Regions from separate parts of the Homo sapiens genome. Here region 1 is linked to region 2. Evidence: fine-mapped expression QTL. Tissue or cell type: T cells. Region 2 holds a variant in brackets; the other region holds the start of a gene. All regions are shown on one strand. Distances are from middle to middle.

Region 1 (8,146 bases), 110 kb before region 2:
TTCCTGACTTACAGATGATGTTAGCATCCCTGTCTCCGCATAGTCCTGCAATCTTCTGTCCTTCTCCTAATATTATACTCCTCACTTGTTTTTATGGCCATTTAAAATCTGTCTTCTGAGCTAGAATGGGAGTGCCAAAAGGGGGCAAGCCATGTTTGTCTTGTTCGTGATTGTACTCTCCCTTCCTCCCTTTTAAACTCACATTTAAAGCATTCAGTGCACGTTGAATTAATGAACGATCAAGTGAAGGAATGCCCTCTCACAGCAGCCCTCCGTGTCATTCTGCTTGTTCCAGGGCTGACCCTAGTGGCTCTAAATTGCAGGTGTCTGCCTGCTGCCCAGATCTCATTATCCCTGGTGTAGCGGCTTCCTGGAGCTGAGGCAACTCTCTATGTCCCCAGAGCTGTTTGAAGACTGGAGGCAAACCAGCATGAGCCTGATTCTAACACAAGAAAAGGGAATAGATTTGTCAAACTGTAGATCAAGGAATTTAGTGCTGATTTGGAGCAGAAATTTGGAGCAAATTACTGAATGTATTATTAAATGCACAGGATCCATTTAGAATCCAATGTTTAAAAATTAAATTAGAAATTAATATTTATGAGCACTTAGGAAGGAGTTGATCAATGTGAGTCATCATTGATTAAAAATACAACAGGCCATTATTGCAGTTTGGGGTTTCATGGTGACACTTTGCATGGTGACATTTTGATAGGATCTCAATCCTCCTAGTTTGGAATTTTGTACACACAAGGAAAGATAAAGACATGGGAAACACAAGATCAAAGTATTTAAATATGAGAAACTGCCCCAAATACCTCTCTGTCCATTAACAATTCAAAGCTTTCTTATAGAAACACGGTGGGGGAATGAAGCTTAGACTTGAGGCTTAAGTGATTTTGATTTTCCAGCCATCTGTCCCTACCCTGCTCTCTTTTCCTCTACTTATCCTGAAACTAAGACAGATGGTTCTACAGAGGAGATCCTGAATCAGTCTCCCTAACCACTTGAGATGTGGATGAGGCTGGCCTGTCTGCACAAAGGTCTAAGTTCTGCCCAGGTGGGCTTACCAGAAGTGCAAGTGAAGGGATGCACTTGGATTCTGTTCCTTGCTATAAAATGGCCGTCCTCACTGCTAAAGCATGACCTAATGATTGAATGGCCCAAGCTGTGACCAGGAGCTGAGAAGGGACAGTGGCAACAGATCTTTCTCACCATTATGGGTGGAGACTGACATGTGAAAAGAGGGAGTGGATGTTGCTCTTTTATTTTTTGAGTCTGTTAATATGACTTGTCCATTGAAGAACTATTGTAGATAATAATAGCTAACATTCAATGAGTGTTTCTATGTGTTAGGCCCTGTTAAGAATTTTTCATGAATTAACTCATTTAATCTTCACTTAACCGTATCTGGCAGACATGGTTTCAATCTCATGAGTTAAGAGTAATGCAGCCAGTAAATGGTAATGGTGGGATTTATACACAACAACCAGGTCCAAAGATGGAGCCCACATACATGACAACACCACATATTCCACTTTATTGCATCCATTGCTGACCACCAGCAGAGCTGAGGGAGAAGGCGGGTTCCTCTAAGACACTTGACAATACTTCTAAGATGTCTTTATGAATAGAAGAGAAAATTGAAGTTTGGCAATTGCACTGTTAAGCAGTTTATTAATAACCAGTGAACCAAAGAATGCTATTCTCCCAGCTTAGCAGAGGGAGCTCCTTAGTGGGATGTCATGTGGCATCTTAATATTTTAATGTAATCCATGGATATGGGGAGACACTGGATGCCTGAATTAAATCCTAAGGGACTTAGAGAAAGTGGATCAGGAACTTTGGTTCCAAAGATCAACTCCATGTTCCCGCACATGGCCTAACCGTAACACTGTAAAGAATTTCCAGTCTTCCCCTTGCACTCCTATCAACACTGAGATGTATTTGAGAAAAAAAAAAAAAGAGAGAGAGAGAGAAGATCTCAGGCTGTATTGTGTTTGCTAATGGTTAATTACGTAATTAATCTATAAGACTACTTTTTTTTCTTTTTTTCTTTTTTCTTTTTTTTTTTTAAAGGGCAGAGACAGATATTCTTCTGGGAGAAGATGGCTCAAATGAGAGAGACTTGAAGCCATGTCACATGAAGAAGAGTCAGAATAATTGAGGATGGTTAATCCTCAAAAGAGAGTGTTTAGGTAAAATTTGAGGGCTGACTTCAAAGATCTGAAAGACTACTTCATGGAGGAAAGATGTGAAGACCCGGGACCAAAGGTTACAGGGGAGTGGATTTGCATAATTGCTGTGCAAGGAGGGAACAATTATGACAGCTAATGTTTACTGAGTGCTCACCACGCATGCACTAAAGTTAAGGTCTTTATATGCCTTAGCTACAAGGTTGTAGATCAAATTCATACTTATCACTACAAGTGTCTCAGAGCATCGTTAGTAAAGGCTCCATTTACTGACTACTTATTAAATTACTTCATTTAATAGTTGGTGCTATTGACTTTTGTTATTATATCATTACTGTTTTATAGATGAGGAAATACAGAAGTTAAGTTGCTTTCCTGCAGTCACCCTGCTTTAGTTACTGGCTTATAACCATCTGGACCCAGGCACTCTTGATACTAATACTGCCTCCCAGAGTCATGCGTATAATAAGGAGTTAGATCAGAGCTGTTCATTAAAAGTATAAGGTGAGCCACTAATGAGAGCCTATGTGTAGCCTTACATTTTCTAGTAGCTACATCAGAAAATGTAAAAAGAAACTGGTGAAATTAATCTTATATATGCTTATATCTTAACCCAACACATGACGAATCCAACTGACTTACTACATCAGACTATTCTCATGTATTGCAATAATGTAATCAACATAAACATACTTAACAAGTTAGTTTACATTCATTTTAAAAATACTGAATTGTATGTCTGTTTTACACTTACAGAACATCTCAGGGATAGCCACATTTCAAGTGCTCAACAGCTGCCTGTGGCTCTTGAGGGGGAAGATCTTAAAAGGGAGCTTAGTTTTCCACCTTGATTCTGATGCCTCCCTGCCCCCGACTTATTTCCTTTGCCAATTAGAAGAAAATGCCGAACTGCCTTTGACTTTTCCGGTAGAGCCAATGTAGGTATTTCTGAACTGGGGGAGGACAGGTGGTTCGCCTGCAACCCTCTTCCCTCCTGCCAGCTAGGCTGGGAGTTAACGTTTTTGATTTCTGCTTTGAAAATGATTTAAGTAGGTTGCATGAATTAAGTAATTTATTCTAAATATCAAATTATGGGTGGAACGTCTTGCCTTATGCAAAGTTATGCAAAATTAGGAAGTCCCTGGCTTAATTGGTTAGAAATACATCTTGTAGTTTCAATTGCAGGGTTAGTAAATACATAGATGTCGACGGAGAGGGAGGAAACTTTTTTTTTTTTTTTTTGCCACTCTGTCCAAGGGTAGAGGCACAGCGTCAAAACAAACACGTCTTAAAGTAGCGTTCAAACAGCCCACCGAAGTTTCCCCTTAATATCCGGAACCGGTTGCCAAAAATTAAAAAAGGATGTGAAAAGATGCTACTCGCTTTTGGCCTCCCGGAGATGGCGCTATGAGGGTGACGGAGTTAATTAGTGCCTCCAAACGCCGTGTGTGAGCTCATCGAAGTCATGCTCTGCACACATATTATTTATAGCAGATCTGAGGCATGCATGGTGTTTGACATTTCTGTCTTTTAAGTAGGGGGACTTCAAAAAGTCGTGGGCATCCCCCTAGGCAAAGTGCAGTGGGCAGGGACCAGGCAGGGTGCGGGCGCAAGGCGAACGCGCAGACCACGAGTGTCCTGGCGCAGGTGCCGGGGGCGGCGGCTGCAACTCCGCAGCGTCCGCTCGGGAGGAGAGTTCGCGGCTGATCTCCGGATGCCTTGCAGATGCAAAATGTGTCTCTGGCCAGCAGGAGGAAGGAAGAGGAAGTGAGAGCAGCGGCAGCCGGCGGTGCAGCAGCCGGCCGACCCAGAGTGTAAGTGCGTGTGCTGGGGCGAGCGGGAGCGGGCGAGGATGGGCACAGGATAGAGGCAGAGCCACCCACGCCGCCGCGGCCCCACGCTGGGCGACAGAGCCTCCAGTTCCCCTTCAATGGTGGCGGGTCGCCGGAGCTCTGATCGCCGGGAACCCTTGCCGCTGCTGTCCTGCGACCCCAAGCAGGTTCGTAAAGTTTCCTGGGCTGGCGCCGCGCCCCGACTCGCTGACCTCGGCGCGGCAGGGGAGGGGGCCGGGACTGGGGCCGGGAGGAGGCGTCCTGCTCCGGGGGACTCCGGGCGCCGCGGAGACACTTTTGTTTCCTCCCTGGGGGCGCCGCGGCTCGGGCGGGGGTGGCCGCCGCGCTCGGCAGGGTGAGGGCTGCGGGCGCGTCGGGGCGCTCTGCAGTTGGGGAAGTCTGAGCTCCGGGGATGGCGGGAGTGGGAGTGGGAGCGGAGGGAGGGGGCGCTGGAGGTGCGGCGCCCGCGGATGAAGCGCAGGGCCCGGGGCCCGGGAGCCCGCCGAGACATTTCGACCAGGGTCTGCGGGAGGGGGGGCGCGGGAGGGTTGCGACGCTGGCGCGGGGTTACTGGGGACGGGGGATGTGGGGCTGGGATCTTGGAGTCAAGATTCCTATAGAGCTAGAGAAGCGGCTGCGGCTCAGACTCGGCGTCTTCTCCTGCACTCGGGGATGGGAGGGAATCCCCCGGCGAGCGCGCTCGTGGGAGGGGGCGGTGATGGGCCAGAGGAATGGGGGCCAGGAGGGCCGGAGAGGGCGGTCTGGGCAGCCGGGAGCCCCTGAGGTTCTGGTTAGTAAATACTCTCCTCCCGGGGACACACCGGGGTCTCCGCCGAGACCGAGAGAGGCGGCGGGGAGCTTTGTGGAGCTTCGTGGAAATCTCGGCTTCGGAGAGGGGACGCACCGGGCGCGCCTTCAGAGAAGGGGGCGGCGGCATGCCAGGGGGCCCGGGAATCGGAGCGGAGAGTGGCGACTGCGATCGCCGGAGTCGCTTTGAGGAAGAGGAAATACAGAACTCAGCTGTCCCGGGGGTGCGCGCGTGTGTTTGGGGTTGGGAAGTCGGTGCTGTGCCGCGAGCGCGCGCGAGGCGGCGTGTGTGTGTGTGTGTGTGTGTGTGTGTGTGTGTGGTGTGTGCGCGCGCGCGTATGTATGTGTGTGTGGTGTGTCGTCGGTGTGTGTGTGAGTGTGTGTGTGTGGGGGGGGTGTTGTGGGTGTGTGTGTGAGTCGGTGTGTGTGTGTGTGACCGCACAGCCAGGAACTCCCCGCCCAGTGACCCTCTCCCGCCTAGGGGGCCATTTGAAGTTGGAGGCGGGTCGGGACCTGCCTTGACCTAAAGGACCAGCCTCAGGCTTGGTCCCAGGTAGTGACCCAGCTCTGAGAGTCCCTGGACGGCTCCCGAGACTCAGTGAATATATTTGGGATGCCCCCCGCGCTGGATCATGGGCTTCCCAACACCGCTGGCCTTGAATGATTCGGGCCTAATTCGTTATGGTTAAGATTTCAGATAATCTAAGACGGGTTGAGGCCTCCAGAAGCGGAGGCTTCCTGTTGGGCGCTGCCAGTGACTTGGGGATGAAGCTATGGAAGAATATCTGAGTGTTTCTCTTTTGCTTCTATAAAAGTAATTAATGACCTGTATTTACACACCAAAACCCTGCGAGCAACTTTGGGACATAGAGGGATATAATCCTTCTCAGAATCACTTTGAGATTGCAAAAACCGGCAGCAGCTATTATTGGGGTCTCCTCTGGCCAGGGTTCTCATATTATCTCACCTCCATGCCTACTTTCCAAGGTTGTTTCAAGCATTAATGTCCCATAATTTACAGATCTGGGGGAAAATAATGGTAAGTTAGGAGGCCAGATCCCCTGCAGAAACATCACATATTTTTAATTTTTCTTATAGCTGACCTTTTGAAGCTTTACTCTTTATTATTGTACATTTCCTATCTCTGGAAGGCTGTGGTTAAATGTGCATGCTGCCTTGTTTCTACTCTGTTTTGTTTGTTTTTATTAGGTTGGTAAATTTTGAGAAAATGACCTGGACTGCTGGGACTCTTGGGGAGGGGTTGTGTCAGGAGGGTACTGAACTGGAGAACAAGAAGTATGGTAGGTATCAGGGAGGGGCAGGCTCGGAGGCAGACCCGGATGGGAGTCTGGGGAAACTCAGGGCCTGGAGCAGTCATTGGGCAAGAAGATGGGCAGTTCTAGTGATGGTCATGCTTACTGTCCTTGGTAACTGCAGGCACCCTCACCGTCTTACATTCTTCTTTTTCACTGAGTTCTCTCCCTAGGGCCTTTGCCCATGATATTACAGGAGGAGCTTTTCTCCCACATGTCCAGATGACTCACTTCCCCTGCTTCTTTCAGGTCTCTGTCCAGTTGTCAGCTTATAGGGGGCCTTCCCTGGCTACCCCATATAAAATAGCAGCCAGACACTCCCTGGGCCTCTTATGTTACTCAGTTTTTTGTCTTAGTACCTTTTACTCCCTGGCATTATACAGTCATTGGTGTATTTTGAGTATTGTCTCTCTCCCTGTTAGAGCAGAAGTTCCATGAGGGTAGTGACTACCTTGTCTTGTTTACAGCTCCAGAACCTGGATGGATTCTTAGCATGATGTCGGTGCTCAATAAGTGTTTGTTGACTGACTAAATGAGAGGTGGCTATACTGGGAGAGATCCACCAGGGAAATATACCAGGAAAATGTTGCAGCATTAGTGCAAGTGAGAAGCCCAGGTAATGGGCTTTTGCTTTTTTCGCTGTCCTTTCCCCCATGCCAGGCCACTCTTCTTTTAGACTCTGTTCTGCCTTGAGTAGACTCCTCCCTTTTTCTGCCTGAAGAAAGGAACAGAGAGGTGATTCCTTGGGAGATTAGATAACCAGTACACTTAATGACACATAACCATTCCAGATCTGGTGTTTCATCACTCTCCTTGGAGAAGGTCTTTTAAAGAAGTCTGTGTTGCTTTAGCCTAGGAGGAAGGGCATGATTGTAAGGGGATTGAAGTCAGAGGCATCTACTGTGTCCCATTCTGCTCTCCTACAATATGGAAGTGAAGACAGGAGGCTGTAAGGGAGGCTGTGTGGCAGATGCAGGGGAGATGAGAAATGCCTAGGAGAAGAAAAATAAAAGTGAGAAAACATTAAGGTGTTCTGCAGGTGCAGCTAAGTCTTGAACATTTACTAAATTACTATATTGAAAAGAAGCTAACTCTTGAGTGTTTCAAAGTAATTTAACCCCTTTGGGTGTTTGGTGTGAGTGGGTGGGGCGGGTGGGGAAAGGGCTTTGAAGCCTTTGCTGAAGGATGTGGCTGGGGGTGAGGCAAGGAGCTCACCTGATCACACACTGTGCTTACTTCATCAGGTTGCCTAATGCTCAAGGGTTAAAGGTGATCATTCCTATGGAGGTAACATTTCCCTTCCAGATCTAAGACAGTGGATACAATTAAGGTTTGTAACTCAAGCTTGTAACCACTTTTTGGTGCCTGAAACCATCCAAGTAGATAGTTTGGTTTATAAGACATTCTGTTGAATCTGGAAAACGTGGTGGATTAAGAAACCCTCTCTGCATCACAAAGCCTGGAGTGTTTGCTACTAATTGTGCAACTTTAGTTCTGGTTCCTTCTAGTCAACCAGAGAAGTGCTTTTTAAGCTTACGGCTGTAACCCATGAGCGGATCATGATATCACTTTAGTAGGCCAAGACCAGCAGTTTAAAATGTGAAAGAGAAGAGTGGTGTGGAAAACAGCATTTCATAAAACAGACACCCAGTCTTAATGTCAAAGTATTGCTCAGTGTAGGTAACGATTTTAAAAAGCCTGTTTCAATAATTCTGGGGAAAACTACATTTTTAACCAACTTGCCAGGGATTCTGATGACGACGTTCTAGAGGGCTACAAGAAATACTTAGCTATCTCCTTTTAACAAAATACTGTTGGTTTAACCCCCTGCAGGAGATGCTATTTCCAAATGTTGAACCAGATGCAGTTCTGTCGGCTATTGACTTAACTTTTCAAAATGCTACTATTGGCCGGGCGCGGTGGCTCACGCCTCTAATCCCAGCACTTTGGGAGTCCGAGGCGGGTGGATTGCGAGGTCAGGAGATCCAGACCATCCTGG
Region 2 (8,206 bases):
CACTGCAAGCTCTGCCTCCTGGGTTCACGCCATTTTCCTGTCTCAGCCTCCCGAGTAGCTGGGACTACAGGCACCCACCACCACGCCCGGCTAATTTTTTGTATTTTTAGTAGAGATGGGGTTTCACGGCGTTAGCCAGGATGGTCTCGATCTCCTGACCTTGTGATCTGCCTGCCTCGGCCTCCCAAAGTGCTGGGATTACAGGTGTGAGCCACCACACCCGGCTTGAGACAGAGTCTCGCTCTGTTGCCCACGCTGGTGTGCAGTGGTGCGATCTTGGTCCCCTGCAACCTCCACCTCCCGGGTTCAAATGATTCTCTTGTCACAGCCTCCCGAGTAGCTGCGATTACAAGCACCACCACGCCAGGCTAATTTTTGTATTTTTTAGTAGAGATGAGGTTTCACCATGTTGGCCAGGCTGGTCTTGAACTCCTGGCCTCAAGTGATCCACCCGCCTCAGTCTCAAAGTGTTGGGATTACAGGCGTGAGCCACCGCACCTGGCCTCAGATGTCTTTACTCAGGTGCTGCCTTCTCGGTGAACCTTTCTCTGAGTTTCCTGTTTAAAATTGTATTCCTGCCCCTCCCACACTGGTAGAGGCACAGGCTTCAGTTTCCTTCGCTGCTTGATTTTTCTTCATATCCTTTGTTGCTATATCCCAGATTTGCTGCTGTATATCCTCAGCATGGGGAATAGACCTGGCACTGAGCAGAGGCTCAATAATTATTTGTTGAATGAGTGACTAAACCACTGCTTTGTAGATTTGCTCTTGCTAGTTACCACTGATTAGCTTCTCAGCAGGCTTCCCTAATCATCTTTGGCCAAAGGAGTAGCGGTTTTGTTTTGGTTCATTTCCTTTACTTGTCAGCTGCGCTGAAGTTAGTTATTTATATAACTGCTGGTGTTGTTGAGGCTTCCATTATTAACTCTGCTATCTCTATTGTCTCAGTAATGTCCAGCTACTGCTGAGATCTGGGATAGTAACTCACAAGGCCTACTCTGGTCTGGTAAAGGACCAAATGCACATGTTTAAGATCTTCGTTACAGATATCAATTTCTCAAAAAAGACAAGAGAACCCAATAGAAAAGGGACAAATGTTTGGACTGTTCACAAAAAGGGAGCGTGTGTCTTTTCCTCTTTATGTTCAGCCTCACTCACAATAAGAGAAATATAATTTTAAAATACATTAAGATTTTATTTTTCAACCTGTCAGGTTTGCAAAAATTCATTCTGTTGGTGAGGCTGGGTGTAAATAGACAACCTCATACAAGTCCAATGGAGAGAAATTTGGAAATGGCTATCAATATTAACTGCACCTATGTTTTGACCCAGCAGTTTCAGTTCTGTGAATCTATTGTAAGGATGTACTTGCATATGTGCAAAATCAGTTATATATAAGTTTATGGATCACAGTTTGGTTTATGATAGCTAAACTTAAGAAATCACCCAAATGGCCCACAGCAGGGGACTGGTTCATCAAATAGGACACATCCACACAATGAACTACTATGTAGCTGTGAAAAGAATCAAGATGCTCTCTTTGTACTAACATAGAAGGATTTAGAAAATATACTAAAAGAAACAAAAAGAATGCTCCCTTTTGGCCAGTCACGGTGGCTCACGCCTGCAATCCCAGCACTTCAGGAGGCCGGGGAGGGCAGATCACCTGAGGTCAGGAGTTCAAGACCAGCCTGGCCAACATGGCGAAACCCTGTCTCTACTAAAAATACAAAAGTTAGCCGGATGTGGTGGTGTGCGTCTGTAATCCCAGCTACTCGGGAAGCTGAGACGGGAGAATCGCTTGAACCCGGGAGGTGGAGGTTGCCTTGAGCTGAGATCATGCCCCTGCACTCCAGCCTGGGCAACAGAGGGAGACTCTGTCTCAAAAAAAAAAAAAAAATGCTGCCTTTTATATAAAGAAAGTGGCAAATGTAATAATGTATTTTTGTATTTGCCTTCTATACTTGAAGAAAGTTTGGAGGGATACCTAATGACTTTGGATAACTGGAAGTATAAGAAGTGAACGCAGATATTGGGCAGGTGGGTGACACTGGGAGAAGAGACTCTACACTGTCCGTCTTTGTACACACAAACACACATACACACACAAGTTTGTATCACATGATTGTTAACAAAAAATTAATTTTAAAAAGAAATGGGGCTGGGCCAGGTGGCTCACGCCTGTAATCGCAGCACTTTGGGAGGCTGAGGTGGGCAGATTACCCAGAGTTCAAGACCAGCCTGGCCAACATGGCGAAACCTTGTCTCTACTAAACATATAAAAATTAGCCAGGCGTGGTGGTGGGCCCCTGTTATCCTGGCTACTTGGGAGGCTGAGGCAGGAGAATTGCTTGGACTCAAGAGGTGGAGGTTGCAGTGAGCCAAAATTGCGCCACTGGGCAACAGAACCAGGCTCTGCCTCAAAAAAAAAAAAAAAAAAAAAAAAGAAATGGGCTAGCCTGGGAAGAGGCAGCAGAGGATAATGGTTACCTCCTTTGTGTAAGAAGCACGATTCATTCAAGTGAGAATTCAAAGTCTGTTCTGAATGCCATTCAGTCCACATCTGTACATTTTCTGCCCCACCCCCACCCCCCACCGAAGGTGCATTGTGTGAACCGACCTTGGGGAGGGAGTATGGGTGTGCATGTGTGTGAGCTCTCAGGGTGTTTCTCCTTCTTCATGATATCCTGGTTGCTATAGTGTGGAGATCTGTTTGTGACACACAGAAAACACTTTAAAGAAACACTGCTTCCTGACCATGACTTCCTGGGCAATCTGTCCTTCCTCAGACTGTTGAGTGCCAGACGTTTATATGCATGTCTGGACAGAGAGTGAGCCTGGCTCATTCAGACCCTGGGCACCATTCAGAGCAGAACTCAGTGGTAAGGAACAGCTTTCTTTCCACTGAAGATTCGCGCAAGCCGTGCCCCACAGGGCAGCGTCTCCTGGCGGCTTTGACTCAAGGGCGTTGGCACGGGCACCCCCATCTTTCTTCTTTCCTCAGGAGCCCATTGTACCGTTGGCTGTGCCCCTGCACCTTCAGCACCCAGGCACCAAGGGGAGCCGTTTTTC[A/C]TACCAAACCACCAGTGAAAACAGGAAGTGATGAAGCAAAATTCACCCTGCATCTGCACTGAGTGACTTCTCTTTCTTTTTCTGTCATTCCTCATTAGGTATAGACACGTGTGGCCGTTTACGCTGTAGGATCCTCATTCCCACTGGCTTTGAACATTTTGGGGACTTACAATGCCGCCACCCGCGGACATCGTCAAGGTGGCCATAGAATGGCCGGGCGCCTACCCCAAACTCATGGAAATTGATCAGGTTAGTAACGTGACAGCATTGGGTGTCTATTTTCAGTTTCCTTTCTATACTGGAATTTTCATAGACTTTGGATAGCTCACTCTTCTCCCTTTCTCTCTCTAGCTGTGTTGAAAAATCTGTGCAATAATAGTTGCAATGTGCTTGATTTCTGTAGCACATACAGTGATGGATGGGGTTTTTATACTCTTCCAGCATCCACTTGGATTGTGTCAATACAGGATTTGTGTCTGAAGCTAGGAAGGAGGTGGGAGGGACAAGTGGATCGGGCCCTGGGCAGTTGACACAGTGGAGGCTGCCCCATCCCTGCCTTGCCATGACACATGGATATGTGCAGATTGTTGGAACACAGGCAAGACAAAACTTAATTTTTAAAATCCCTTTTTTTTCATTTTTTGCAGAAGCAGCCAAATGCATTGGTACTTTGTTATATTAATAGCTTTGTAATGAAATTAGTATAGAGGGGTTCAGTCTTGGATTTCAGCCAATTGTAATTTTTATTTTTAGTGTAAAATTCACAATGTGTCTAGCATATTGTCTGCCATGTAGTAAATACTCAACAAATGTTTATTGAATTAAAAAATATCAAGAAGACTTATAAAAGTGGCTTGACCCATAAAGGCATCCTTTAACTTGAATCTTGAGAATTGTATGGTGTGATTCTCATGCACTATTTGATTATAGGTTATCTCAGAATGGTTACTTTTGTCCTCACTTTACTGTAGTCACTCTAGAGCAAATGATTTAAGGAATAAAAGGTTGAGACCTATTATATACTTACAGGTTTCATAATGTATATAGTATAGGGTTCTAGATGGCTTTCTACATTTTCAAAATTACAATAACCATGGCAACTCCAATCTTTATGTTCTCCATACTATTTTACAATTATGATTTACAATTTTTTTTCCTGGTCAGATTTTATTATCTGGTGGCAGATCAATGCGAGAGTTATATGGAATTGTGCGAATCCAAAGGAATCATTAAAATGAATTATACGGGTCAGCTCAGAATTAATTGAACTTAAACTCAAATGTAAGAAAGGGTAAATTTTTGGGATTTTTGTCAAAAAAGCTGTTATCAGACCACACATCATTGTCATTTTAACTGCTCTCTGAGGTAGTTTTCTACTGACTCAAGAAGGAACCTATACAAACAGAGAAAAGTAGAGATGCCTAATAGTTTCGGATATATTTGAGTCAGGCAACAGATGCTTATCTGCTTTCATATGTGGTTTGAGATGCTAGTTAAAATTTACCTTAAGAAAATGTTTGGAGATACTCGGTGCAGACTAAATGTAGTTTGGATTAGGTTTGGCCACAGCCTAAGAGACCAGTGGCTTCAGTGAGATGGAAGTTGGTCTCACACACGTGTAGAGAGGTCCTGAATGCCCCGCAGTGGCATGCACTGGGGCCCTCTGTCTTGTTGCATTGCCCTTCTCAATCTGTGGAGCTTTGGACCACATGCTTGGGCATCACCCGAAAGCACATTAGAAATGCAGAATCTCTGGTCTTATTCCAGACCTCCTGACCCAAGTCTGCATTTTAACAAGATCTCCAGGGTATCCCTGTGTGTAGTTCAATCTGAGACGTGCTGAGCTGGATACCTGGTGCCCAAGCCCGAGTACTAATCAGAATTACCCAGGCACTTATTCGAAATAACTATTTTCAGTGGTCCCATCCCAAGAGACTCTAATTTAGTGGTTCTGGTAAACTATTTAATTTTGATTCTGCCATGGTCAGTGCAGTTTGGGAACCTCTGCTTTAAGACAGCAGCTCTTGATAGACAGTCCTCCTCCTTACCTGTGAGGTTAGTGTAGTGTTCTCTGCCTTTGGAGATGGCCTTTGCTATGTGTGTGTTTTAATATATATATTTTTAAATTATCTGCTTATTTTGGAATAATTTTAGATTTACAGAAAATTACAAAGATTGTATATGCTTACATTTATACCCTATTTCCAGTTTCCCCTTATGTTAATATCTTAATCTTGGTACATTAGTCAAAACTAAGAAATTGACATTGGTACATCACATTAACATAACTACCAACTTTATTTGGATTTCACCGGATTTTCCACTAATGTCCTTATTCTGTTCGAGGATCCAATCCAGGGATACGAATTGTCACGTTTCCTCAGTCTCCTTCCGTTTTGGACAATTTCTCAGTCTTTCCTTGTTTTTCATGGCCTGATAGCTTTGACAAGTAATTTTATGTTGATACAATTTTAAACACACAAAAATTGCCAGGATAGTACAAAGAACTCTGTACCTACTTTTTCTGAACCATTTGATGGAGCCCTGGAAGCACCATCCCCCTTCACCCCTGAACACTCAGTGTGTATGTCCCTAAGATTGTAGCCATTCTCTTACATAATAATCACAGTACATTTATAAAACCAGAAATAAATTGAATACTGGTATAATGCTATCGTCAAATTCACAGTTCGTAATCCATATTCAAATTCCATCAGTTGTCCCAATAAGATCCTCTATAGCTATTTTCTCTCTGGTGTAATATCCTGTCCAGGATCATGTACTATGTTTATTGTCAGGTCTCTTTGATCTCCATTGATCTTTAGAAATTTCTCAGTCTTTATCTTTTGTGACCTTGACATTTTTGTAGAGTACAGGACAGCTATTTTAGGAAAAGTCTTCAGTTTGGGGTTCTCTCACATATCCTGCTGATCAGATTCGAGTTTTGTATTTTTGGCAGAAATGTAGAGAAATGATGTGTCCTTTTTGGCTCATCATATCAAGAGGTACATGGTGTTGCATTGCCTAATTCTTGATAATTATTCTGGTTTTACAGATGACAAGTGTAAACAGTTGGTTAAATTATAGGCCTCCTATTAATCACATATGGAAACCTAGACGGGCAATTAGGAACCCAGTTCCTAATTGCCCTGCAGTTGCTGGAATTACAATGAGACTTATGGAAGTGTTGCTGTCAGATGTTGTTTCTTGATTGAATCAGAAGTTGGCACAAGAATTAGAAGTATGTTTTCACATGCAATGAAGAGTAGAAGAAATGATTATTACTTGGGTTTTCTCCTAATCTTCTACCTTGTTCAGTAAAGATCACATAACCTGCCTCTCTCCCATAGCATGTTAGCTTCATTTAGAAAGCTCTTTGCTTCTTTTTAGCCTGGATAGCTGCTATTTCACTAAAAGCCGTTTCCAAAAGTTGGGTTAAGCACTGCTGCTCTATTGTCTCCCAAAATTTTGGGTGCCCCTCCACTTATCACATTGTATTGTCCTTGTCTATCAACTGAACCCAGTGGTCCTCAACCTTGACTGTGTACAAGAAGCATCCAGGGAGCTTGTACAAAATGCATATACCAGCTTGTGCAAAATGCAGCCCCAGCTGCAGAGATTGTGATTCTGCTGGCCAGGGGCAGGGCTTTTCATCTGCATCTGTGATAAGCACCAGATGAATCTAATCCAAGGGCTTCCACAGTTTGAGAAGCAGTCATTAGACTGGGAACTGCCTGTCTTTGAGTGTTGTTTCTCCTTGCCTGGTGAACAGTCCTTAAAATGAAAAGATATTTCATGAATGAATAACTGGGAGGCGGTGCTTCCTGAGTAGTGATTATCTTATCAGGTGCTCAATTCTGCTCAGCCACCCTCCATCAGTGCCTGGAGTTTTCAGAGGGACGTCTGCCCATGATGGACTTGTTTATCTTCTTTCTAAATATTTAGGAGAAAATTCTGTGTTTCCACTCAGCAGGAAAAATCCCCAGGAGCTTCTTAGACATGGACTTTGCTGTATCACAGGAAGGTCTCAAAAGAATTATCAACTCACTGGTTCCTGACTCCTGCTCTCGCCTTCACAATGTATTGTTGAGTTTCAAGCCCGGGGAGCCGCTTGAGGATGAGGATGCTTGTTGTCTGGATATATCAAGGCTCCTGCATGCACTGTTCTTGTTAACCTATTATGTCCTGAATAATGTATTTGTTTCTCGGTCAAGAGTCTGGAATCCCAAACACTTCAATAAGCAGCATCTAGTAAGAGGCAGTGGGCTCCAAGGACATTTAAACCTGGATGTGAGCACTTGTTTTAGTTCCTTCAGCTGCTATAACAAAGTACCTTAAACTGGGAAATTTATGAACAACAGAAATTTATTGTTCACAGTTCTGGAGGCTGGGAAGTCCAAGATCAAGGCACCAGTGGATGTGGTGTGTGATGAGGGCTTGTTCCTCATAAATGGTGCCTTGTATGTTTCCCCACAGGCAAAAGGGGCAAACAGGCTCTGTCAAGCATGTTTTTATACCACCACCATGGGGGCCAGGTTTCAAACAGATGAATTTTGGGGAGACACAAACATTCAGACCATAGCAGTCCTGGAGCCCTGCTTTCTGTGAAAGGCTCAGTTAGCCTTGAGCCTCAGTTTCTTTGGGATAATAATTTGCTACTTTGATGGTCCTTGTGAAGATTAAAGAAATCATGTGAAAAGAGTGTAGCATGTTGCATAGCTTAGAGTGATTCCTCAATAAAAGCAGCCATTATTAGCTAGATTAGAAAATTAGGTACTCTGGTTTTCCTTTTCACCTGCACTTCCATTGTGAACATTTGCCCTCTGTTCTCATTCTTTCTCTGCCTAACTTTTTCAATGTTTAGGAAGGAGAAAAAATTAAAAGACAAGTGGGAGGCATCCTCTGGTAATAAAGAGGTGTCCTAATTGGACACATAGCCAATTTGTGCTATGGAATATTCACTGGCTCCCTAGTACTCTGTGATTTTTTTTTTCCATCTTGGCCACTCACCATTTCTGAGCAGCAGCTTTTCTGTTCCCTGCATAAACTCTTCAAGCCTCCAGTATTTCTTGTCTCTGCCCTGCCCCCTCAGGCCTTGCTTTTCAAGGAAGACACAGACCAGAAAGCTACCACT

The links. PIP is the estimated chance that this variant, and not a neighbour inherited with it, causes the effect.
Region 1: it holds the start of ELMO1, and the variant in region 2 is fine-mapped to the expression of ELMO1 in T cells (TOPMed, PIP above 0.99). The same link has a PIP of 0.9 or more in blood mononuclear cells and whole blood.

The regions. Positions count from the first base shown.
Region 1 is chr7:37,444,723-37,452,868 of GRCh38, reverse strand. ELMO1 (engulfment and cell motility 1) reads left to right here and starts at 4,005. Exons shown (of 22, transcript NM_014800.11): 1 at 4,005-4,194. RefSeq lists silencers at 4,256-4,305, 4,316-4,365.
Region 2 is chr7:37,337,728-37,345,933 of GRCh38, reverse strand. It overlaps ELMO1 (engulfment and cell motility 1), which reads left to right. Exons shown (of 22, transcript NM_014800.11): 2 at 3,171-3,321. The coding sequence starts at 3,244. Among named protein-coding and RNA genes, the nearest start is that of ELMO1, 110 kb to the left of the region's middle. RefSeq lists enhancers at 2,577-2,816, 3,057-3,176. The variant A/C (reference allele first, on the strand shown) is at 3,073.